4 linked regions of the Homo sapiens genome follow. The protein of the gene in region 1 purifies or fractionates together with the protein of each later gene. This does not show direct contact. Each region holds a gene or a part of one and is shown on either strand. Other genes may lie near its edges. The genes, in order: IKBKG, TNFRSF1A, PIAS4 and NFKBIB.

Region 1 (6,840 bases):
TCCTGCCCAGGCACTCTCACTGGGTTCCCATCCTTCATGTTGGGCTGCCCCAGGGCTCTGTCCTAGGACATCTTCTTCTCTGTAACTTCATTCACTCCCACAGGAATTCTGTCCAGTCTCATGCCTTGAACTCCAATCTTGATGCTTAATTAGACCTCTTTTCTAAACTCCACATTCATTTATCAAACTCGACATTTCTACTTGGTTATCTAGTAGCCTTCTCAAAACGAACCTCTCTAAGACCTCCGACAGTCCCCAAAACCCAGATCTACCCAAGGCCTTCTTTGTTATCAGCTGATGGCGAATCCATCCTCCAGCTGTCAAAAGTCTTTTTTGATTCTCTCTCTCTCTCTCACACACACACACACACATACACACACACACACACACACACACAAGAGCACATCTAATCCATCAAGAAATCCTGTTAAAATGTATCCCCCAACCGATCTGATCACACTGAGCAATTAACATTAACTATTTTAGGTGTCATAATGATATTGTGGTTGTTTTTCAGAGTCCTGTCTTAGAGAGAGGCACACTTAAATGTTTAAAGATGATGTCTGAATTCACCTCCAAATAATGGGAAAACTCCTAGGTATATACCGGAGAGAAATGAAAACACATGTGTCCACATGAATGCTTGTAGCAGCATTACTCATAGCAGCCAGAGAGTGGAAACAACCCAAATGTCCATCAACTATGAATAAACAAAATCTAGTACATCCACATGCTATAACATGAACAAATCTTGAAAATATGCTGAGAAATAAACAAGTCACAAAAGATTAAACATTGTATGAGTCTATTTATATAAGATGTCTACAACAGGCAAATCCACAGAGACATAAAGTGGATTAAAGATTGCTGGGGAGTGCCACTTAGGGCTGAGGGGAAGATAAGCTGAGCTAAAGGGTATGGGGTTTCTTTGAGGGGTGACGAAAATGTCCTGTGAATATACATACAACAAACCATTGAATTGTACACTTTAAATGGATGAACTGTGTGACATGCTAATGATATCTCAAGCTGTTATTGAAAATAATAGTGGTGGCCAGGCATGGTGGTTCACACCTGTAATCCCAGCACTTTGGGAGGTCATGGCAAGTGGATCACTTGAGGTCAGGAATTCAAGACCAGCCTGGCCAACATGACAAAACCCTGTATTTACCAAAAATACAAAAAAAAAAAAAATAGCTGGGAGTGATGGTGCATGCCTGTAATCCCAGCTATTTGGGAAGCTGAGGCAGGAGAATCGCTCAAACCTGGGAGATGGAGGTTGCGGTGAGCCAAGATCGTGCCACTGCACTCCATTCTGGGCGACAGAGTGAGACTGGGTCTCAAAAAAAGAGGCCGGGCGCGGTGGCTCATGCCTGTAATCCCAGCACTTTGGGAGGCCGAGGCGGGCGGATGACAAGGTCAAGAGATCAAGACCATCCTGGCCAACATGATGAAACCCCATCTCTACTAAAAATACAAAAATTAGCTGGGCGTGGTGGTGCACAACTGTAGTCCCAGCGGCTGAGGCAGAAGAATCGCTTGAATCCAGGAGGCGGAAGTTGCAGTGGGTGGAGATCACACCACTGCACTCCAGCCTGGTGACAGAGCGAGATTCTGTCTCAAAAAAAAAAAAAAAAGAAAGAAAGAAAGAAAAAGAAATAAAATAATAATGGGAGAGGATTGCGAGGGATATAAACAAAATTAGTCAGAAGTTGATACCTTCAATTGTTGAAGTTGGTAGCTGTGAATGTAAGATTTACTATACTGGCCGAGCGCAGTGGCTCACACCTGTAATCCCAGCACTTTGGGAGTCTGAGGCAGGCAGATCACCTGAGGTCAGGAGTTCAAGACCAGACTGGCCAACATATAGTGAAACCCCGTCTCTACTAAAAATACAAAAATTAGCTGGGCGTAGTGGCGCACGCCTGCAGTCCCAGCTACCTGGGAAGCTGAGGCAGGAGAATCGCTTGAACCCAGGAGGAGGAGGTTAGAGTGAGCTGAGATCATGCCACTGCACTCCAGCCTGGGCGACAGAGCGAGACTCCATCTCTCAAAAACAAACAAACCAAAAAGATTTACTATACTCATTTTTCTACTTTCGTACATTTTTGAAATTTCCAATAATAAAATGCTCAAAGCACTGTCTCTGAGCTGGATTACTGCAATTACCTCTTACCACGCCACCCTTCTTTTACCCTTGCCCACTATGGTCTGTTCTCCCCACCACTGCTAGAACGATCAGTGTAAGACGTAATTCCGATCACATTCCTCCTCTACTGAGAACCCTACCATGGATCCCCGTTGCCTTCTGCGTAAAAGCCAATCTCCCTACAACGGCCTACAAGGCCCTGTACCATCGGGTTCCCCATCCCTTCCTCTCCAACTGTGCTCCCCTCCCTCACTCTGCTCCAGCTATAGTGACCTCCGTGCTATTCCTCTAATGTGCCAGGAGAGCCCATTCATTCTCAGATCACAGAAACAGTATGACGATAGGCAGATGTTGTCTTGCAAAACGAGCAAACAGGCATATGAAATCAGATACCTAGCTGCCAAACTATATGTGAGGCATTTCCGAAGAATTTAACGACCTCGATAGAGCGCAGTCAAGTTTGGTGAACAGAATATGTCTCTGAACTAGAGGAGTCCTCACACAAGGAGTAGGGTCAGACCCCGCAGTGGAGGAGGAGGGAGGAGTAGAAACAGTCCAGCTCGCCGCCCAAGTAACCTGGGTCCTGAATCGGCCCGCCTTGGCCAGTGCTCCAGAAGCGCGGAGCAGGAACGGGCTGGGGCCCAAAAAAGAGGGGGGAGCCTGAACGTCCGGGGGAAGTTTCGGAGGCGGCGGAACGCCCACGGATGGAACCCTGTCTTTGGGGAAAAGGACCACACCTGTCAGCAGAGTCCGTCAGACGTGAGAAGGGTGGGAGCGGCGGACTGTGAACGCTGGTAGGGCCCCGGCGCTCCGAGAAAGTCCCAGTTTCGCGGTCGCCCTTCCCTACCACGCTTCCGGCTTCCGGTGTCATAGCTGTGGGATCCGGAAGTAAAAACACAAGCCCCGCCCCCGAGAACTCGGGAAGCCGGCGAGAAGTGTGAGGCCGCGGTAGGGCCGCATCCCGCTCCGGAGAGAAGTCTGAGTCCGCCAGGCTCTGCAGGCCCGCGGAAGCTCGGTAATGATAAGCACGCCGGCCACTTTGCAGGGCGTCACCGCCTACACGCCCCCTCGTCTCTCGGACGGCGGCGTCTAGCCTCGGGGCGCTCGGCCGCCCCGCCCTCTCCGGGGGAGGAATCAAGAAGAGACTGCCCAATAGGGCCGGCTTGACCCGCGAACAGGCGAGGGTTCCCGGGGGAGTGGCGCGGCAGAAGGCCCCGCCCAGGAGCCGAGGGACAGCCCAGAGGAGGCGTGGCCACGCTGCCGGCGGAAGTGGAGCCCTCCGCGAGCGCGCGAGGCCGCCGGGGCAGGCGGGGAAACCGGACAGTAGGGGCGGGGCCGGGCCGGCGATGGGGATGCGGGAGCACTACGCGGAGCTGCACCCGTGCCCGCCGGAATTGGGGATGCAGAGCAGCGGCAGCGGGTATGGCAGGCAGCCGGCGGGCCGGCCTCCAGCGCAGGTGCCCGAGAGGCAGGGGCTGGCCTGGGATGCGCGCGCACCTGCCCTCGCCCCGCCCCGCCCGCACGAGGGGTGGTGGCCGAGGCCCCGCCCCGCACGCCTCGCCTGAGGCGGGTCCGCTCAGCCCAGGCGCCCGCCCCCGCCCCCGCCGATTAAATGGGCCGGCGGGGCTCAGCCCCCGGAAACGGTCGTACACTTCGGGGCTGCGAGCGCGGAGGGCGACGACGACGAAGCGCAGGTAACCGGCCGGGCGGGCGCCGCGCAGGCGGAGGAGCGTACTGTCCCGCGCTGCGCCGCGCGGCGGTAAAATACACGCTGTTTGTTGTGCTTGAGAACCGAGCAGAATCGAGAGGGTCTTAACCAATCCCTTTATACCCCGCACCTCCTCTCTTGAGCCCCTGAGACCCCGAGAGCGAAGGGGACTTGCCGACCGGGGTCACCCAGCTTGGCAAGGGGAGGGCTGGAGCTGAACTCCAGCATCTGCACCATCTCCCATGCTCCAGGTCATTGTGGAGTTCCCGCTACAGTCGGGAATGAGATGGTCCTGGGCACGCAGTTCCATGCCCCACAAGGATTTTACTCGGTTGTCCAGAATTGATGCTGTAGTCGGAATACACCAATGCTTTGAGTAATTTTGTAATGTACACCCTGAATGAAGGCTGCCTAGGAGAGAGTGGCTGGAGCCCAGAGCCAGCAGTTTCTAACCCATCAACCACTCCCCAATGCCCAGCCGTTCACAAGGAGTGATTTGGGCAATCAGGTGTCACCCTGGTGTGAGACCCCAGAGGAACTCTCAAGAAAGGGGCTAACTTCTCAATGCTCTCCTGTTCTTCTGCCTTGTTAACGAGCCTTTCTTCCACCAGACAGCGTCATGGCAGAGCAGGTGGCCCTGAGCCGGACCCAGGTGTGCGGGATCCTGCGGGAAGAGCTTTTCCAGGGCGATGCCTTCCATCAGTCGGATACACACATATTCATCATCATGGGTGCATCGGTGAGTATCTCCCAGGCCCCAATCTTAAAAGCCAGGAAGTGCCTGCTCCATGCCTCAGCTTTTCCAACTAATTGTTGCAGGGCCCCACAGGCTCTGCTAAGTTGAGCTCCTCCTCCCGCTCCTGCTAGTGCGCCAGGATCATCCCGGCTCTACCTGGTGTGCATATGCACTTGCAAGACTTTTTTTTTTTTTTTTTTTTGGAGACGGAGTTTTGCTCTGGTCGCCCAGGATGGGGTGCAGTGGCGCCATCTTGGCTCACTGCAACCTCGGCCTCCTGGGTTCAAGCGATTCTCCTGCCTCAGCCCCCCAAGTAGCTGAGATTACAGGCATGCACCACCACACCCGGCTAATTTTTGTATTGTTAGTAGAGACGGAGTTTCACCATGTTGACCAGGCTGGTCTCAAACTCCTGACCTCAAGTGATCCGCCCGCCTCGGCCTCCCAAAGTGCTGGGATGACAGGCATGAGCCACCACGCCCGGCTGCAGGACGTTTCTGAACCCTGTGCCTAGCCGCTGAATGTAGCCCTTAATCCTGGAGTTGCAGGCTCTTTAGGGACTGTCTAGATGGACTTCTTGGGGAAAACAGGGAATGCTATTCATTCTGTAGTTTTTTCAGACCTGTTCATGCCTTAACAAATGAGTTCCAAAGGCAGGATCTGAGGCCTGATCTCTGCCTCTTCACTAACACTTCAAGTTCCGTCGATACAAACACTTAGCTTTTCTTTGAACACTGTCTCTTTGCCTCAATTTCGAAAGCCTACCAAGGAGCTCTGCCTCACCCCACCTGGCCCCAATTGTCCAGCTTGTAGAACCGCCATTCTGCACTCATAGGAAAGACAAAAGAATAGTATAGCATGAGGATTTCCATGGGAGGGGAGGGAGGGGTGGTCCTAGGACAGCCATCGCCCGAGACTAGAGCACCCTCCCCTGTGTCCCATGGGGCAGTGAGACTGTGCAGGGGCTGGTGGAACAAGGGCTTCATCTCAAATTACACGTGGTCTCAGTTTTCACTTTTAACCCTGGATGCACTCAAGAATCTCTCTGCTCATTACTGTATGACCATCTTTGCCATTAACTTACCTTGTAACCTTGAGCAGGAGCTCTATCAAAACTAGTTAGTTCTTCCACATCGTGCGCCCCTCAGTGCTGGCTGAGCTCAGTGGTTCTTTGTTCACATAGAACAACGCGCTGTCACACTTTGTCAAACCTACTCCTTGACACCTTTGTACTTCTGATCAGAACTTAGAAAAGGAGAGCCAAAAGGGAATGAGGAGGCAGCCGAGGGAGAAGGGCTCTGCCAGTGGCAGAGTAAGGAGGGGCCATTGTCCTCTGACTCCCCATAAGCCTGAGACCCAGGAGAGGTACCAGGTGGAGCCCACAGTAGATTGGGCTTGGCCTCAGCCCCAGCCCCAGCCTGGTCCCCTCAGAAGAGCCATACCTGGCCGGGCACGGTGGCTCACGCCTGTATTCCCAGCACTTTGGGAGGCCGAGGCAGGTGGATCGCCTGAGGTCAGGAGTTTGACACCAGCCTGGCCAACATGGCGAAACCCAGTCTCTACTTAAAATACAAAAATTGGCTGGGCGCAGTGGCTCACATCTGTAATCCCAGCACTTTGGGGGGCCAAGGTGGGCAGATCACAAGGTCAAGAGATCGAGACCATCCTGGCCAACATGGTGAAACCCCATCTCTACTAAAAATACAAAAATTAGCTGGGCGTGGTGGTGCGTGCCTGTAGTCCCAGCTACTCAGTAGGCTGAGGCAGTAGAATCGCTTGAATCAGGGAGTCAGAGGTTGCAGTGAGCTGAGATCGCGCCACTGCACTCCAGCCTGGCGACAGAGCGAGACTCTGTCTCAAAACAAAACAAAACAAAAAGGCCGGGCGCAGTGGCTCACGTCTGTAATCCCAGCACTTTGGGAGGCTGAAGCGGGTGGATCATGAGGTCAGGAGATTGAGACCATCCTGGCTAACATGGTGAAATCCCGTCTCTACTAAATAAAAAATTAGCCAGGCCTGGTGTGGGCACCTGTAGTCCAGCTACTCAGGAGGCTGAGGCAGGAGAAAGGCGTGAACTCGGGAGGCGGAGCTTGCAGTGAGCAGAAATCGCAACACTGCATTCCAGCCTGGGTGACAGAGTGAGACTCCATCTCAAAAAAAAAAAAAAAATAACAAAAATTAGTTAGGTGTAGTGGCACCCATCTGTAATCCCAGCTACTTGGGAGGCTGAGGCAGGAAAATCGCTTG
Region 2 (3,841 bases), on another chromosome or scaffold:
TCCCAAAGGAAGCCTGGCCCAGGCACCCTGCCTCCTGCTCTGTTTGGGGATCAAGAACTGTAAATTTATGTATCATAGGTGCACCTGAGCCCCACAGAAAGTTGTGCATAAAAATGACTGCCCTGGCTGGGCATGGCTGCCTGTAATCCCAGCACTTTGGGAGGCTGAGGTGGGAGGATCCCTTGAGCCCAGGAGTTCCAGACCAGCCTGGGCAATATAGGGAAACCCTGTCTTTACAAAAAAAAATTTTAAAAATTACCCAGGTGTGGTGGTGTGCCTGTGTCCGGAGGCTGAGGCGGGAGGACCCCATGAGCCCAAGGGTTGGAGGCTGCAGTGAGCGCACTCCAGCTTGGGCAACAGATGACGGTGTTCAGAACAAGAACCTGCTACTCCTCTGTCACTTGGCGTGATGGTGATGGGCTACCTGGCCCTAGTGCAGGGCTTTTCCCATCTCACCCCTCAGGATCTGGGCCTCTGCCCCCACCTCCCATCCCGACAGACCACTGTCTCCAAGAGCAGAGCTTTAACTTCAGAATTTTAGTGTATGTACAAAAGTCCACAGCTCCAGCTGAAGGCCCCATTGTTCCGTGCTCGCCCCTGCCTTAGGACAGTTCAGCTTGCTATGTGCTTGTCCAGGCAGAGGGCACAGGAGTGCCAAGTTTCTATTAGTGTAACATGATTGATTTAAAAACAAAACAAAACAAAACAAAAACAAAAAAAACTGCTTATGCACTGTGAAAAAGGCTCAGGGACGAACCAGGGGCCCCCGAGCAGCCTTGCTGGTGAGGACACCCAAAACGGGCATGAGGCATAGCGTCCCTCATCCTCGCAAACCACCCACTCAGGCTCTTGAGCCCACGGCGCACCTCTCTCCGCGCGCACAGCGCTGACTGTCGGCGGCGCGCAGGCAGCTGAGAAAAGCTATGTACATCGAGGGGTTAGCACCAAGTAGGCGGCTGCTAGCTCCTGCTTGCCCCTGCAGGACCCCTCCTTTCCAGAAAAAAGTGGGGTTGGAAGGCGATCTCGCAGGACGGTCCTTAGAGCTGCCCGCAGGGGCGCAGCCTCATCTGAGAAGACTGGGCGCGGGCGGGAGGGCGGCGGGGCCGCAAAGCGCCTCCTCGATGTCCTCCAGGCAGCCCAGCAGGTCCATGTCGCGGAGCACGCGTCCCAGCAGCTCCAGCGTGGCCTCGCGCCGCGGCGTGCGCCGCCTCCAGGTCGCCAGCATGCTGTATTGCGCCTCGCGCAGGCAGCGCCCGTTCTGCAGCTCCAGCCGATCGATCTCGTGGTCGCTCAGCCCTAGGCGCCGCACGAATTCCTTCCAGCGCAACGGGGGCACGTTCTCCACCACGGCGTACAGCGTCGCGGGGTCATCAGCTGCGGGGACGCGGGCCGGTGAGCCTCGGGCGGCAACCCCAGGCCCCGCCCCGCATCCCGCGCCCTCCGCCTCTCGTGGTCCCCTCTGGGAGCGCCTCCCGCGCTCCCCCGGCCCTCCCCCAGCCTCCTCGTCTCCAGCCGCGGGAGAAACTCACTGTCTAGGCTCTGTGGCTTGTGGGCGCTGTCCTCCCACTTCTGAAGGGGGTTGGGGATGGGGTCGGAGGCGAGGGCTGTCGCAAGGATGGGGTCAGCCCCCTGATAGGGTGGTGCCACCTCTCTGCGGGGAGCCGCAAAGTTGGGACAGTCACCGGGGGTATAGGTGGAGCTGGAGGTGAAGGTGGAACTGGGCACGGGACTGAAGCCCAGGGTGGGGGTGAAGCCTGGAGTGGGACTGAAGCTTGGGTTTGGGGCCAGGGGCTTAGTAGTAGTTCCTTCAAGCTCCCCCTGAAAGAGAGAAGGTGGCGCAGCATTAGTGCGGCAGCGAAAACCAGCCCCGGCCCTCTTTATTCTACGTGGGGGTTGGGACTTAGAGGGAATGAGGCGAGCCCCCGGAAAGTGAAGGATGATTCCAGGGGATCTGAGCATTAGGCAATTATAAGGAATGGTCAGGGACATTTGGGAGTAACTCTCTCATTTCATCTCACCTCTTTTTCAGGTGTCGATTTCCCACAAACTGAGGAAAAAGAAAGAAAGCATCATAAATTTCACTTCCTCTCTCAGCCCTGGCACCCTGGACTCAGCTGGCAGTGGGGACTTGTGGTGACATGCCTCAGGGCCTATGTGGCCCCAGGGACGAGAGAGCTACTGATGCAGCTCGACATCTCCCCAGCCATCCAGGGCCACCTTCTGCCCAGAGTCCCCAGCGGTATGAACTGAGGGGACACTCCTCACCTCCCTCCACACATGTCCATCGCACCCACCCATGTCCTCCCTCACCCCCACCAGCTCCCTCTCCCTCCCAAAGCCCCCACTCACCAATGGAGTAGAGCTTGGACTTCCACCGTTGGTAGCGATACATTAAACCAATGAAGAGGAGGGATAAAAGGCAAAGACCAAAGAAAATGACCAGGGGCAACAGCACTGTGGTGCCTGCAGACAAAGCAGGTGTTGGTCAGAGGAGCGGGCAGAGGGGGGCCGCAGGGATAGATGGATGGGTGGGATGGATGGACGGGTGGGGGCAAGAAGAGGGAGAGGGCAGGTGAGCATGGGCACCAGGTCACTTCTCCTCACCTGAGTCCTCAGTGCCCTTAACATTCTCAATCTGGGGTAGGCACAACTTCGTGCACTCCAGGCTTTTCTTACAGCTAAAAGAAGAGACGGCACTGGTGAACAGAGGCCCTACCATTGGAGGAACACAGAAAAACAACCACACAGATTGTTGGACATCCTTTCTTTACAAATATTTTTGCTGTCTCTTGATATAATTTGTTTTGGGAACTGATGCAGAAGAATGAAACACAGTTAATCATAGAATCATTTAATTTTAGAATTGGCAGGGATCTTGAAAAGGCTGTGTAGAAAATGTGAAAAGCAGTCAGGGTCAGGGTGTAAATTCCAGTTCATTCCTTGGCTAGCAGTGTGAATCTAGGCAAGCCATTAACCCCCAAGCCTCGGTTTCCTCATCACCACAGGGATCGCCCACCTCTCAGGATTGAGGATTAAGCAAAATCATTATGCCTCATTTAATAAGTGCTTGAGAAGGTAGCCAGCTAGCTGTTATGGGATTGTTGTTTCATCACTGTTTTGCTGATAAGAATCCTTTGGCAAAGAGAGGTTAAAGGGCTTTTTCTTAAATGACACTGCTAGTTACAGTACCTGACTTCGGGGAGTCGGGGTCAAACATGCATGTGAAAAATTTAAAAACACATGTTACTGGGGCAGCCAGAGAGCACCCTGTAGAACTAGCAGATCTTCCATGTTGGGAGTTGTCACTGGACAGTGTGGAGTGATGGGAACTCTATGGGGTGGTGCTGGAAGGAACTTGAGAGAGTGAGTTCCCAGCAGGAAGCTGAAAGCAGGGAGAGGCACTTTAGCCCACCACTCAAGCTCATGGTGAGAACCACATAGAATGGTATAAAAGTGATTTCAAGAAGAGATGAAGCCGGCTGGGTGCAGTGGCTCACGGCTGTAATCCCAGCACTTTGGGAGGCAGAGGCAGGTGGATCACCAGGAGTTTGAGACCAGCCTGACCAAGATGGTGAAACCCCATCTCTACTAAAAATACAAAAATTAGCCAGGCATGGTGGCACGTGCCTGTAATCCCAGCTACTTGGGAGGCTGAAGCAGGAGAATTGCTTGAATCTGGGAGGCAGAGGTTGCAGTGAGCCGAGATCGCGCCACTGCATTCCAGCCTGGGCGACAGAGCAGGACTCTGTGTCAAAAAAAAAAAAAAAAAAAAAAAAGAAGATTAATGGAAAATAAATAGTTTTGTGTCAGACGTGTTGTAGGTTTTGTTTGTTTCTTTGTT
Region 3 (7,035 bases), on another chromosome or scaffold:
GTCTGACTGTCGCCCGTGCTGGAGTGCAGTGGCGCGATCTTGGCTTACTACAGCCTCCTGGCTTCAAGCGATTCTCCTGCCTCAGCCTCCCAAGTAACTGAGATTACAGGCACGCACCACCACACCCAGCTAATTTTATGTACTTTTAGTAGAGACGAGGTTTCACCATCTTGACCAGGCTAGTCTTGAACTCCTGACTTCAGGTGATCCACCTACCTTGGCCTCCCAAAGTGCTGGGGTTACAGGCGTGAGCCACTGCGCCCAGTCTCATTTTTTGTATTTTTAATGGAGACGGGGTTTCGTCATGTTGACCAGGCTTGTCTTGAATTCCTAACCTCAAGTGATCCACCTGCCTCGGCCTCCCAAAGTGCTGGGATTATAGGCGTGAGCCACCAGGCCCGGCCCCAGTCAGCCTTTTAAAAACTCCCTGTGTTTCATTTCTATTTAAACTTGTACAATTATGCGCTTGTCCTAGAAAACTGGAGTCAACAGCAGAGCAGTCCGGCCGGCGCCCTGCTGCCCGAGTGGGCCGCCTCGGTACACCGGGCCGGTGCTTGCCGCCTTCTCCCTTTGCATGTGTGATTGTAGGAATGTGTGGCTGTGTCCTGGCTGCTATTTTATAACCACCCCCCATACTGTGAGCATCTGCTCACAGCGTTAAATATTCATCGTCAGCAGCATCTCGTGAGGCTCCCTGGCAGCCTTGGGTGGAGCCAACGGCTGGGCCCTTCTTGTTGGGCTCTCGGATCGGGCCCAGGGGCTGCTTTTCGTGCCCGGGCCGGAGGGCCTGGCTGAGCACCTCACCCCAGAACCGGCTCTGCCTGGCAGGGCCCCCGTGGTCACCTGATCTTGCACCTGGCCCCAAAGGTGCATCTGGTTCAGTGGTGCCCTTGCCTTGGTCCCGTGGCCTTGGATGCTGGGCAGCCCACGAAACCATCTCCCCCTTGGGGAACTTCATGCTTCAGTGGCCCAACAAGAAGGAGCAGCAGAGTGATGTAGGGAAACTGAGTCGCTCCTTAGGAGGAGAAGGTTTGGAGAAAAGTGAGGTGGCGGGGGGTGCGGTTTTTAAATGGGGTGCTCAGCGAAGGCTTTCCTTCTGGTGACATTTGTACAAAGACAAATATAGGGCCATGAGGCTGGTCGGGGGAGGAAGGTTCCAGAAGAGGGAATGGCAGGTGCGGAGGCCCTGATGCAGCATGGCTGGTGGGGCCCAAGCAGGAGGCCAGGGTGGTGGCCGTGTGTGCGCCGGGGTGTGTGTGGCCCTGAGCAGGGGTACTGAGGGTCAGGGGTCTCCTGCGGAGCCATCCCAGGGGGCGGGCTCTGGCTGCTGAGACCGGCAGAGCTGGGGGCAGTCGTCTGCACCGGGCGGGATTTGAAAACAGAGCTGACAGGACTGGCTGAGGGAGTGGATGTTTGCAGGACAGCAGAGACGGGGGCTTCATGGATGCCACCTGGGTTTCTGGCCCCAAACAGCTGACCCCGAGGGCAGAAGGGCAGGTTTGAGGGAGACCCCACAGCCCCTTCCCCAGCATAGGGGGGCCGGGTGTTTGGGGGGAACCGTCAGCGGCCCGGGGCCAGTGGCACAGCAGTGAGAGCACAGGGCACCTCCCAGGCCCCCAGCAGAGAAGCACAGCCCGGTCTCCCCCAGAGGGAGGAGCCCTCCCAGGGCAGGGACCCCAGAGTCTTGTTCTTCAATGACTGGGCCCTGTCTGCCCCAGGCATGGGCTGGCAACAATCCCTGGCCAGCTGGGTGGCTCCCTTGCTGCCTGCTGGGGACCCACCCTTCTCCCCTACCTCCTTCTGAGACACTGAGGGGTGGGGTGTCTGTGTTTTCACCTCCGACCCAGCCTGGAAGCTCAAGGCCCAGCTCAGGTGTAGGCTCCCGTGCAGCCTCCCTGCCCCTGAACCATTGCTCCCCTGGCACTCAGGGCAGACCTGGGCGCGTCTGCAGGTGGCCTGTGTGCCCCCCTCCCAATTAGGCGGCCTTCCTCAAGGGCCCAGCCGGGACTCCACAGCCCATCACCTCTGCAGAGACTGGCTGTGCCCTGAGCATATAAACGGGAACCGGCTGTGGCAGCCCCCTCTTCCTGAGGGCCAGCCACAGACCCGGCACCGGTCCCCGAAGAAACAGGTCAACATGGGCGGGACGTGCAGGCTGAGGCCACAGAGGCCCTGGCAGGGCTGGGAGCCGAGCCCAGGGAGTCTGGCTTTTTTCTTTTTTTTTTTTTTGAAATGGAGTCTCGCTGTCGCCCGGGCTGGAGTGCAGCGGCAGGATCTCAGCTCACTGCAAGCTCCGCCTCCCAGGTTCACGCCATTCTCCTGCCTCAGCCTCCCGAGTAGCTGGGACCACAGGCGCCTGCCACCACGCCCGGCTAATTTTTTGTATTTTTAGTAGAGACGGGGTTTCACCATGTTAGCCAGGATGGTCTCTATCTCCTGACCTCATGATCCGACTGCCTCGGCCTCCCAAAGTGCTGGGATTACAGGCGTGAGCCACTGCACCCGGCTTCTCGTGGGTTTTAATTGAGAAAGTTCCAAGACAGTGCTGGTAGTTGAGGTGCGATCCCATGGCTCCGGTTCTTGTAAAGGCCCTGTCGTGGGTGCAGGCCACACCACTGTGTGCACTGCCGTCCTGGGAGCACCTGGGAGCACAGACATAGCCTGCGAAGCTGATGAGCTCCAGCCTTTACCAGGGGCAGTTCGCCATCCCTGTTCTAAAGGGCTTGCCTGTCATCTCGTTGTCTCGTCTCCCGGCCACTGCAAGGCTGCCATTGTGGCCAGATTCTCGCTCCCCCACGCTCTTCCGATATTTTTTACACTTATAAACAAATAGGTGTTTACTCAGATGCCTTCTCTCCATTTTCATTACACAAGTGATAGCAGGACGTGCACGCTGCTCAGCGTTTTTGCTTTGTATCTAAATATATTTTTTAATGTAGACACAGTCTTGCTATGTTGCCCAGGCTGGTCTCGAACTTCTGAGCCCAAGCAGTCCTCTCACCTCAGCCTCCTGAGTAGCGGGAATGACAGCTGCACACCAGCACACCTGGCTCAGGCTTATTTAAAAACTTTTTTTAGAGACAAGGTCTCACTGTGTTGCCTGGGCTGGGCTCCAACTCCTGTGCTACAGCGATCCTCCCACCTTGGCCTCCTGAAGGGTTGGGGTTACAGGCATGAGCCGCTGTGCCCAGCCTGCAAGTTTCTTTGAACGCATGTTTCCATGTATTGAGGGAAAATACTTTGGAGTGGGATTCCTGATTCCTGGGTGATAGGGTAGGTCTGTGCTTACCTTTATAAGGGTAGTTTCCCAGAGTGATGGTACTGTCTTATAACCCCACCAGCAGAGAGTTCTGATTGCTCTACACCTTTGCCATCTCTTAGAGTTGCCAGTCCTTTCATTTTAGCCATGCTAGTGGGTGTGTAGAGAGGTATTTTATTTTATTTTACCTCATTTTATATTATTGATACAGAGCCTCACTCTGTCACCCAGGCTGGAGTGCAGTTACACAATCTCGGCTCACTGCAACCTCCGCCTTCTGGGTTTAAGCGATTCTCCTCAGCCTCCCGAGTAGCTGGGATTAGAGGCGTGTGTCACCATGCCTGGCTAATTTTTGTATTTTTAGTAGAGATGGGGTTACCATATTGTCCAGGCTGGTCTTGAACTCCTGACCTCAAGTGATCCACCTGCCTCGCCTCCACAGTGCTGGGATTCCAGGCATGAGCCACCGCACCTGGCCTGGGTGTGTAGAGAGGATTTAAACCGGTCTTGGATTTCTACACAAATCGCAGGGGCCTGAAATACTGGCTGATATTTTGTGGAGGATTTTACATCTGTGTTCATGAGGGGTATTCATCGGGAATTTTCCTTCCTTGATGCTGAGTTGTGAGGTTTTGGTATCAGAGTTATGCTGGCCTTGTAAAATAAGAAGTATGCTTTCCTTCTCTGTTTTTTGAAAGAGTTTATGTACGGTTTATGTGGTTTCTTTCCAAAATGTTTTATAGAATTCACCGATATGGACCTGCATTTTCTTTTTCTTTTTTTTTTTTTTTTTTTTTGAGATGGGGTCTGATTCTGTTGCCCAGGCTGGAGTGCAGTGGTACGATCATGGCTCACTGCAGCCTCCACTTCCTGGGTTCAAGCAATCCTCCTGCCTCAGCCTCCAAAGTAGCTGGGACTACAGGTGGTGTGCACCTCCACACCTGGCTAATTTAAAAATTTTTTGTAGAGACAAGGTCTCACTTTGTTGCCCAGGCTGGCCTCAAACTCCTGGGCTCAAGCAATCCACCCACCTCAGCCCCCAAAGTGCTGGGATTACAGGCATGAGCCACCATGCCCAATCTGGACCTGCAGTTTTCAGAAAAGGTTTTAATTATGGATCCAACTTCCTTAACAGGTAAAGAGCTTTTCAAACTTCCTGTATCTTTTGGTACCCGTTTTGGTAATTTGCATCTTTGGGAGGATTTGTCCATGTCACTAAGTTGTCAGATTCATTGGCATAAAGTTTCACCTTTTATTCCCCTATTGAACCGAAAAGCTGTAGGGTCTGTACTATTGTTCTTTCATTTCTGATATTGGTAGTTTGTGTTCTCACTGTCTTTTTGTTGTTCAGCTAGAGTTTTGTTTTTTTTGTTGTTGTTGTTGTTTTTGGTGGTTTTTTTTGAGACAGAGTCTCGCTCTGTAGCCCAGGCTGGAGTGCAGTGGCACGATCTTGGCTCACTGCAAGCTTCGCCTCCCTGCAAGCTCCGCCTCCCAGGTTCGCGCCATTCTCCTGCCTCAGCCTCCCTAGTAGCTGGGACTGCAGGCGCCTGCCACTACACCCAGCTAATTTTTTGTATTTTTAGTAGAGATGGGGTTTCACCGTGTTAGCCAGGATGGTCTCGATCTCCTGACCTCGTGATCCACCCCCCTCGGCCTCCCAAAATGCTGGGATTACAGGCGTGAGCCACCGCGCCTGGCCGTTTGTTTTTGTTTTTGTTTTTTTGGGTTTTTTTGGAAACAGTCTCACTCTGTCGCCCAGGCAGTGGTGTGATCTCCACTCACTGCAACCTTTGCCTCTCAGCTTCAGACAATTCTCCTGCCTCAGCCTCCCAAGTAGCTGGGATTACAGGCGCCCGAACCAGGCCTGGCTATTTTTTTTTTTTTTGAGACACCACACCCTGCTGTTTTTTTAAGAGATGCGGCAGCCAGGCGCCGTAGCTCATGCCTGTAATTCCAGCACATTGGGAGGCCGAGGTGGGCAGATCACCTGAGGTCGGGAGTTCGAGAGCAGCCTGGCCAACATGGAGAAACCCTACCTCTACTAAAAATAGAAAATTAGCCGGGCGTGGTGGCTCATGCCTGTAATCCCAGCTGTTTTGGGAGGCTGAGGCAGGAGGATCACTTGAACCCAGGAGGTGGAGGTTGCAGTGAGCTGAGATTGTGCTATTGCAGTCCAGCCTGGGCAACAAGAGTGAAACAAAGTCTCAAAAAAAAAAAAAAAAATGGGGCTGGCTGGGCACAGTGGCTCACGCCTGTAATCCCAGCATTTTGAGAGTTTGAGATGGGCGGATCACCTGAGGTCACGAGTTCGAAACCAGCCTGGCCAACATGGCGAAATCCCATCTCTACTAAAAATACAAAAATTAGCCAGGCTTGGTGGCTATTCGGGAGGTTGAGGCAGGAGAATCGCTTAAACCCGGGAGACGGAGGTTGCAGTCAGCCGAGATCGTGCCATTGCACTCCAGCCTGGGCGACAGGGTAAAACTCCATCTCCAAAACAAAACAAAACAAAACAAAACAAACAAAAACCAATGTTTTCTGACTGCGCCTCTGCCTGTCAGTCCAGTTGTAAGTAAGAGGGTAGGGCCCAGGCTTGTGAGCACCATGGCCTTCATCCCGTCAGTACCCCCCGCACCACCTCTGTCCGGGTGACGTGGCCACCCTGCAGGCAGGAGGAGAGCAAGGGCCGGGTCCGGTTTGTGCTCAGGAGAGAGGAGGTATGGCAGTGTCCTGCTGGCCTGGCTGGGTCCAGCTCTCCCCGCCAGGCAGCTCGGCACTTTTCGGTTTCCTAAGTAGACGCCTGCATCCCACAGGCTGCGAAGGTCACCCAGCAATCTGAGTGGCCGTCAACAGGACACAGGCCATGGTGAGCGGCCCCGAGAAGGGGATGGGCGGGAGTCCTCCCTCATCCTCCTTCCTGGGCGGCCCCCACCTCTGCCCCACATATCTGTCCAGCCAACTTCCCATTTCCTGTTTCCTGGTCTGAAGAGGCGCAGGCTGGGAAAAGCGACTGGGCTCGGGGGACCTGCCAGGGACCAGACATGCCCCTGACCCCGTGTTTGTCTTCAGTCCCACAGAACAACGAGAAGCTTCAGGAGAGCCCGTGCATCTTCGCATTGACGCCAAGACAGGTGGAGTTGATCCGGAACTCCAGGTGTGCGGCACCTCCCCCAGCCCAGCACCCCACCGCCCGCCCACCCACTTTCTCCTGGGCTCACTGGGGAGAGCCGGCAGCCACGTCCACTGCAGGCCTCGCTCGGGCTCAGTCCAGAACCGTGCTGCAAGGCAGTGGCCGGGTTTGCTTCCTTCCAGAAAACCCCATCCTGGGTCTCAGGTGCTGGCCTGTGTGCCCACTGCCTGTGCCCTGCAGCCTGCTAGAGAGAGGCGGACTGACTGTGCCCTTTTAACACGGTCTTGCCCTCCTGGGCCCATCCTGGGCATTGCAGGGAGCGGAGGAGCATTCCTCGCCTCCACCCACGCCATGACAAGAACACACCCCTGTTGTGACAACCACAGATGTCCCCAGACATTGTCCAGTGTCCCCTAGGGCAGGATAACCCGGGCGAGACCTCCCTGGGTTAGGGGATTCCACGTATCCCCAAGAGACTCTGTGTCCCATGATCCTCTGCCCTGCTGAGGTCCCAGAAGGCTGCATACATTGAAATCCACACCCTGAATTGGAGGGGGAGAAAGTAGGTGAATCCCAGGAGCTGGGGGTCCCCGGTTTACACCGCCCGCCTTAGGAATTTATTCTGGTGTCCAGCATGAGCAGGAAG
Region 4 (6,456 bases), on another chromosome or scaffold:
ACTTGAGAGGCAGGAGAATCGCTTGAACCCGGGAGGCGGAGGTTGCAGTGAGCTGAGATCACGCCACTGCACTCCAGCCTGGGCAGCAGAACGAGACTCCATCTCAAAAAAACAAAACAAACAAACAAAAAAAGAAAAAGAAAAACAAAACCAAAAAGAGAAACCATATGACCTACAAAGACTAAAATAGTTATCTGGCTCCTTACAGAAAAAGTTTGCTGACTCCTGCTGTAGGGTTGATAGTTTACAACTTTAGGTTATCATGGGCTACCTTAAAGTGATATTATGCCATTTCACATAGAGTAAAAGAAATTTATTTTATTTTATTATTATTATTTGAGACGGAGTCTCACTCTGTTGCCCAGGCTGGAGTGCAGTGGCACGATCTCAGCTCACTGCAACCTCCATTTCTCAGGTTCAAATGATTGTCCTGCCTCAGCCTCCTGTGTAGGTGGGATTACAGGCGCATGCCACCATGCCTGGCTAAATTTTTTTTGTATTTTTTGTAGAGACAGGGTCTCATCGTGTTGGCCAGGTTGGTCTCAAACTCCTGACCTCAAGTGATCTGCCCGCCTTGGCCTCCCAAAGTGCCAGGATTACAGGTGTGGGCCACCGTGCCCAGCATAATGAACTGTTTTAATATTCTTGTTTGCAAATTCTAACATCTCTGTCATTTCTGGGTCAGTTTCAATTCACTGATGGTTCCTATTATGGATCATGTTTTCCTGCTTCTTTACATGCCTGATAATCTTTGGTTAGGTGCCAGACATTGTGAATTTTGCCTTGTTAGTCTGGAGAATTCTGTATTCCTATAAATATTCTTGAGGCCGGGCGCCGTGGCTCACACCTGTAATCCCAGCACTTTGGGAGGCCAAGGCGGGTGGATCACGAGGTCAGGAGTTCAAGATCAGCCTGGCCAACATGGTGAAACCCTGTCTGTACTAAAAACTGCAAAAATTAGCCAGGTGTGGTGGCACGCACCTGTGGTTCCGGCTACTCGGGAGGCTGAGGCAGAAGAATCGCTTGAACCCAGGAGGTGGAGGTTGCAGTGAGCCACGATCGTGTCACTGCGCTCCAGCCTGGGCGACAGGGCAAGACTCTCTCTCAAAAAATAAAAATTAAAATAAATAAATAAATAAATAAATAAATAAATATTCTTGAATATTATTCTGGGATGGAGTTAAATTACTCGGAAGTAGTTTGAGTCTTTCCAGTTTTGCTTTTATGATTTGTTAGGTGGGTGTTGAGCAGTGCCCCATCTACAGTTAATTATTCCCCACTATTGAGGCAAGACCTTCCTGAGTATCCCACCCGATAGCCTGTGATGATGTTTTTCCAGCCTGGCTGGTGGGAACACTCACTATTCCTGGCCCTGTGTGAGTAACGAGCACTTTTCTGAAATCCTTTTGGATGGTTTTCCCATCCCCACAGACTCACAGGCATGGCTGATCCGTATTCTCCGGAATACACAAGAGAACCTCCTGCAGTTCCCCAGCAATCTCTCCTTTGGCAACTCTGTTTTGTACTCTGTCCTGTGACTCTAGCCACGCTGGCCTCCACAGACTCTTCCTCCATATCCATCTCCTGACCTCAGACAACCTGATGCGCTCTGCTTGGATTCCCCTCTCTGCACCGTGGCTTTGAAACTCTCTCAAGACAATAAGCTGTGGCAGTCAAGTGTGGGGCCCACCTCGTGTTTCCTGTCTTTCAGGGGTCACTGTGATTCATTGCACGATGTCCAGTGTCTTCAACACTGTTGCTTCATATACCGTATTTCGTCTGACTCTTGTTTGTTTGTTTGTTTGTTTCACGTGGGAGTGAATTCTGGTCCATGTTACTTCATTTTGGGCAGAAGTGGAAATCCCACTGAATAAACATTGATTCCACGAATTTGCTGATGAAACTCTGACCTCTGACCTCCCAGATAGCTGACAGGGGGTTCCAGAACTGTGGTCACAAGGCCTAGCATACAGTAGGCGCCCCATGTTTGTTCAATGAAGGAATGCAAGAGGACTTGAACTTTGCCCTCTCACCCCGGTCTTTGTCCCCAGGGCACTGCACTTGGCTGTGATTCATCAGCATGAACCCTTCCTGGATTTTCTTCTAGGCTTCTCGGCCGGCACTGAGTACATGGACCTGCAGAATGACCTAGGCCAGGTGAGCCACGAGGGATGGTGTAGGGCTTGGGGTCCAGGGTTCCCAGTGTGACTCCCTACCGCCTGTCCTCTGCTTCTGCAGACAGCCCTGCACCTGGCAGCCATCCTGGGGGAGACATCCACGGTGGAGAAGCTGTACGCAGCAGGCGCCGGGCTGTGTGTGGCGGAGCGTAGGGGCCACACGGCGCTGCACCTGGCCTGCCGTGTGGGGGCACACGCCTGTGCCCGTGCCCTGCTTCAGCCCCGCCCCCGGCGCCCCAGGGAAGCCCCCGACACCTACCTCGCTCAGGGCCCTGACCGTACTCCCGACACCAACCATACCCCTGTCGCCTTGTACCCCGATTCCGACTTGGAGAAGGAAGAAGAGGAGAGTGAGGAGGACTGGAAGCTGCAGCTGGAGGCTGAAAACTACGAGGGTGAGGGTCGTCACCAGGGAAGGACTCAGCTCCTGGGCTAGGCGAGAGCACCTGGCCCTGGGCTCAGCTTCCCTGATTTGAGACTGAGCTCCTTGGGAAATCATGCCTAGGCTTCAGGAGCCCACACATCGGGACCAGGGACCTCCACTCAGGGCCCAGATGATTGAGAATTGGATATGTAGGACCCAGGACCCCCACCTGGAGGCCCCAGGTCACTTGGGATGCAGACCTGTCACCCACAGACCCAGAGCTGCCAGGATCCAGTTGTCGGGCCCCCGGGCTCCCCACCTGCAGAGTGTATTGCAGACCCCTACCCTACCCAGGACCGGGGAATGCAGAGCTCAGGCCCTCTGTGAAACTCTGGCACCCCAGGCTCCCAGCAATGGGCAGCAGGGTTCAGAGACAGCCCTCCTCAGCCTCATGGGAAGAAGGGCTCATCTGCCCACAGCCCTGACATCCAAGTTTCTGCTCCCCTGCCTATAAGCCCAGCCACCTGAGACCAGACCCCTCCTCAGATGGACTGACGTCATTCAGGACCCAGTGTTCAGGGCCTGCCTCTCGCCCCCAGGTCACAGGCTTTTCAGCTACTTGGTACCTTTTTTTTTTTTTTTTTTTTTTTTGAGACAGTCTCACTCTGTTGCCAGGTTGGAGTTCAGTGGCGTGATCTTGGCTCACTGCAACCTCCACCTCCCAGGTTCAGGTGATTCTCCTGCCTCAGCCTCCCGAGTAGCTGGGATTACAGGGATTACAGGCACATGCTACCATGCCCAGCTTATTTTTGTATTTTTAGTAGAGACGGGGTTTTACCATGTTGACCAGGCTGGTCTTGAACTCCTGGCCTGGCCTTAGGTGATCTGCCCGCCATGGCCTCCCAAAGTGCTGGGATTACAGGTGTGAGCCACCGTGCCTGGGCAGGAACCTTAATTTAAGGTTTTTTTTTTTTTTTTTTTTTGACATGGAGTCTCACTCTGTTGCCCAGGCTGGAGTGCAGTGGCGCCATCTCAGCTCACTGCAAGCTCCGCCTCCTGGGTTCACACCATTCTCCTGCCTCAGCCTCCCGAGTAGCTGGGACTACAGGCGCCCGCCACCATGCCCAGCTAATTTTTTGTATTTTTAGTAGAGATGGGGTTTCACCATGTTAGCCAGGATGGTCTCGATCTCCTGACCTCGTGATCCACCCGCCTCAGCCTCCCAAAGTGCTGGGATTACAGGCGTGAGCCACTGTGCCTGGCCTTTATTTTTTATTTTTAGTAGAGACGTCTTGCCATGTTGCCCAGGCAGCTTCTTGAACTCCTGAGCTCAAGTGATCCTCTTGCTTTGGCCTCCCAAAGTGCTGGGATTACAGGTGTGAAATAGCGTGCCAGCTCAGGTCCTTTGAGTGATAAGAGCAGAGACTTGGGTCTCCTCCTGGCCCCAAAATCCAGGCTCCCTGTCCACAGACCCCAGGCTGTTTACCCGCGGGCCCCAGGCTTCAAACAACTCAGGCACTAGCACTTGCCAGCAAGCTCAGGCCATCTGAGATAGGCATTTGGTACCCAGGTACCTCTTTGCCATACCCAAGAATTCAGGAACCAGCCCCCAAACCTAATCACCCTCACGCCACATGACCCTCCCCCAGGATCAAAGCACGGTGGGGTGGGGGGGGCCCTCACCTCATCATCTGACGCCAATCACTCTGTCCCCAGGCCACACCCCACTCCACGTGGCCGTTATCCACAAAGATGTGGAGATGGTCCGGCTGCTCCGAGATGCTGGAGCTGACCTTGACAAACCGGTGAGCCCCAACCTCGGGGAAGATGCCGTCGGCGGGAGGGGGCTTGTCCCCTCTTCGGGCCCTCTGACCTTTCTGTTGCACCCCCACAGGAGCCCACGTGCGGCCGGAGCCCCCTTCATTTGGCAGTGGAGGCCCAGGCAGCCGATGTGCTGGAGCTTCTCCTGAGGGCAGGCGCGAACCCTGCTGCCCGCATGTACGGTGGCCGCACCCCACTCGGCAGTGCCATGCTCCGGCCCAACCCCATCCTCGCCCGCCTCCTCCGTGCACACGGAGCCCCTGAGCCCGAGGGCGAGGACGAGAAATCCGGCCCCTGCAGCAGCAGTAGCGACAGCGACAGCGGAGACGAGGGCGTGAGTCAGGAGGAGAGACAGGGCAGCCCAGCTGGGGGGTCAGGATAGACCGGCAGGCAAGAAGCCCAAGAAGATAATTAGGCACCGACCTTGGGCTGCTGTTAGAGAACTCAGGCAGCAGCGCCAGTGACACGGGGCACTAGTCAGGAGAGACCTGGACAGGGGTGGTGGGAAGAGCTTGGGCAGAAGTGGCTGAAAAACTAAGGCAGTGGCAAAGGTAGAACTCAGGCAGGGGTGGAGAAAAGGCGTTGGTCGCAGTGATTGGTGAACACAGCGGGGGTGGGTGGTAGCGCTGGGGGTGATTTTAGGCAGCAAGAATTGGAGAACTCACACTGCGAAAAGAAAACCTTGGGTGGCAGTGATTTGAACACCGGCAGTGCTGGGGCAGGACCCGAGCCAGCGGTGGGGAGAGATATAGTCAGAGAACCCAGCAATACAGATCCGTCCTTGGGCAAGGCGCGGTGCTGGATGATGGGTGCGGAGGAATTTGGGTAAAGGCAGAGGGAAGGGGTGGAGGAGGGCCAGCTCAGTTGCCGAAACTCTGGAGTGGCGGCTGGCTAGAAATTGGTCTGTAGAAATGACCTTGAAAATGGAGTTCTGGCCAGGTGCGGTGGCTCACGCCTGTAATCCCAGCACTTTGGGAGGCCGAGGCAGGCAGATCACGAGGTCAGGAGTTCGAGACCAGCCTGGCCAACATGGCAAGACCCTGTCTCTACTAAAAATACAAAAATTAGCTGGGCGTGGTGGCGCATGCCTATAATCCCAGCTACTTGGGAGGCTGAGGTAGGAGAATTGCTTGAACCTGGGAGGTGGAGGTTGCAGTGAACCTAGATCACGCCACTGCATTCCAGCCTGGGCAACAGAGCGAGACTCCATCTTAAAAAAAAAAAAAAAAAAAAGAAAGAAAAGAAAATGGAGTTCTGAGAGCTAGGAAACTGGGAGGTTGAGCCAGGAGCAGGGGAACTTGGGCTTTGAGGCGAGACCTAATTCTTAGGGTGCTCTATGAGGACATGGGTGGTGGGCAAAGTGACAGCCGCCTGAGCCCCTCTGCCTGGTCCCCTTTGCCCCCAGGATGAATACGACGACATTGTGGTTCACAGCAGCCGCAGCCAAACCCGGCTGCCTCCCACCCCAGCCTCAAAACCTCTTCCTGACGACCCCCGCCCCGTGTGATTTGTTTCATTGTTAATATAATTTCCAGTTTAATAAACAAAACCCTAGTTCTGACAACCAGAGACCAGACTGATCTTGTCTTCCCAGTCCTCCGGGTCCTTCTGGGGCCCATCCCTGTCACATCAAGTGCTGCTCACGGAGGCAGGGTGCGTTTCTTTGTGCTTTATTCACTCAGAAGGGTTGGAGTGGGAGTGCATAGGTGTGGGGGTGCTTCCTGTGTCAGGGCTGAGCCCAGCCCCCGGCCCAGCTCAGACTCACCTCCTTGGGTGTGGTTCCAAGGCACGTCCGCCTCCTCCCCTGTTTGGGTAGGGGTGGCGTGGGGTGCTAGGTGAGGTGGAGGCTTCGGGGTCAACAGTCCTAAGCCACAGGGTGTGTCAGGAGGAAGGAGGGACTGAGGTAGGGGTCAGCCCTCCCTCCTGAGCTGCTCCCCCAGCGTCTCTGTCACCTTCTTCAGTTCGTCTCTCAAGTGCTCCAGCTGCTCCACCTCCTTTTCCTGGTGGGGTCAGAAACGGGGTAGTCAGCACCCACCTTCAAAGGCAGGCCACCTCGGTCACTGTGATTGTGGGCCATGTCGGTTCTCATAGTGG

What was found.
Region 2: the proteins of IKBKG (region 1) and TNFRSF1A purify together in Homo sapiens (affinity purification with western blotting; 4 studies listed by BioGRID, with this or other methods). This does not show direct contact.
Region 3: the proteins of IKBKG (region 1) and PIAS4 purify together in Homo sapiens (affinity purification with western blotting; 5 studies listed by BioGRID, with this or other methods). This does not show direct contact.
Region 4: the proteins of IKBKG (region 1) and NFKBIB purify together in Homo sapiens (affinity purification with western blotting; 5 studies listed by BioGRID and IntAct, with this or other methods). This does not show direct contact.

What each region holds. Positions count from the first base shown.
Region 1 is NC_000023.11:154,543,792-154,550,631, reverse strand, and holds the start of IKBKG (NF-kappa-B essential modulator), read right to left. Parts: upstream 3,013-6,840; 5' UTR 2,887-3,012; intron 2,786-2,886; exon of another isoform or gene 2,543-2,785; intron 1-2,542. Other genes in the region: G6PD (glucose-6-phosphate 1-dehydrogenase), read left to right, coding at 3,762-3,843, 4,469-4,596. UniProt on the Homo sapiens protein: Regulatory subunit of the IKK core complex which phosphorylates inhibitors of NF-kappa-B thus leading to the dissociation of the inhibitor/NF-kappa-B complex and ultimately the degradation of the inhibitor.
Region 2 is NC_000012.12:6,328,249-6,332,089, forward strand, and holds the end of TNFRSF1A (tumor necrosis factor receptor superfamily member 1A isoform 1 precursor), read right to left. Parts: intron 3,746-3,841; exon of another isoform or gene 3,720-3,745; coding exon of another isoform or gene 3,628-3,719; intron 2,679-3,627; coding exon 2,605-2,678; intron 2,464-2,604; coding exon 2,350-2,463; intron 2,048-2,349; coding exon 2,019-2,047; intron 1,819-2,018; coding exon 1,530-1,818; intron 1,375-1,529; coding exon 1,064-1,374; 3' UTR 523-1,063; downstream 1-522.
Region 3 is NC_000019.10:4,017,708-4,024,742, forward strand, and holds part of PIAS4 (E3 SUMO-protein ligase PIAS4), read left to right. Parts: intron 1-6,328; coding exon 6,329-6,413; intron 6,414-7,035.
Region 4 is NC_000019.10:38,902,964-38,909,419, forward strand, and holds the end of NFKBIB (NF-kappa-B inhibitor beta), read left to right. Parts: intron 1-2,051; coding exon 2,052-2,157; intron 2,158-2,238; coding exon 2,239-2,572; intron 2,573-4,257; coding exon 4,258-4,346; intron 4,347-4,435; coding exon 4,436-4,696; coding exon of another isoform or gene 4,697-4,744; exon of another isoform or gene 4,745-5,767; coding exon 5,768-5,869; 3' UTR 5,870-5,926; downstream 5,927-6,456. UniProt on the Homo sapiens protein: Inhibits NF-kappa-B by complexing with and trapping it in the cytoplasm.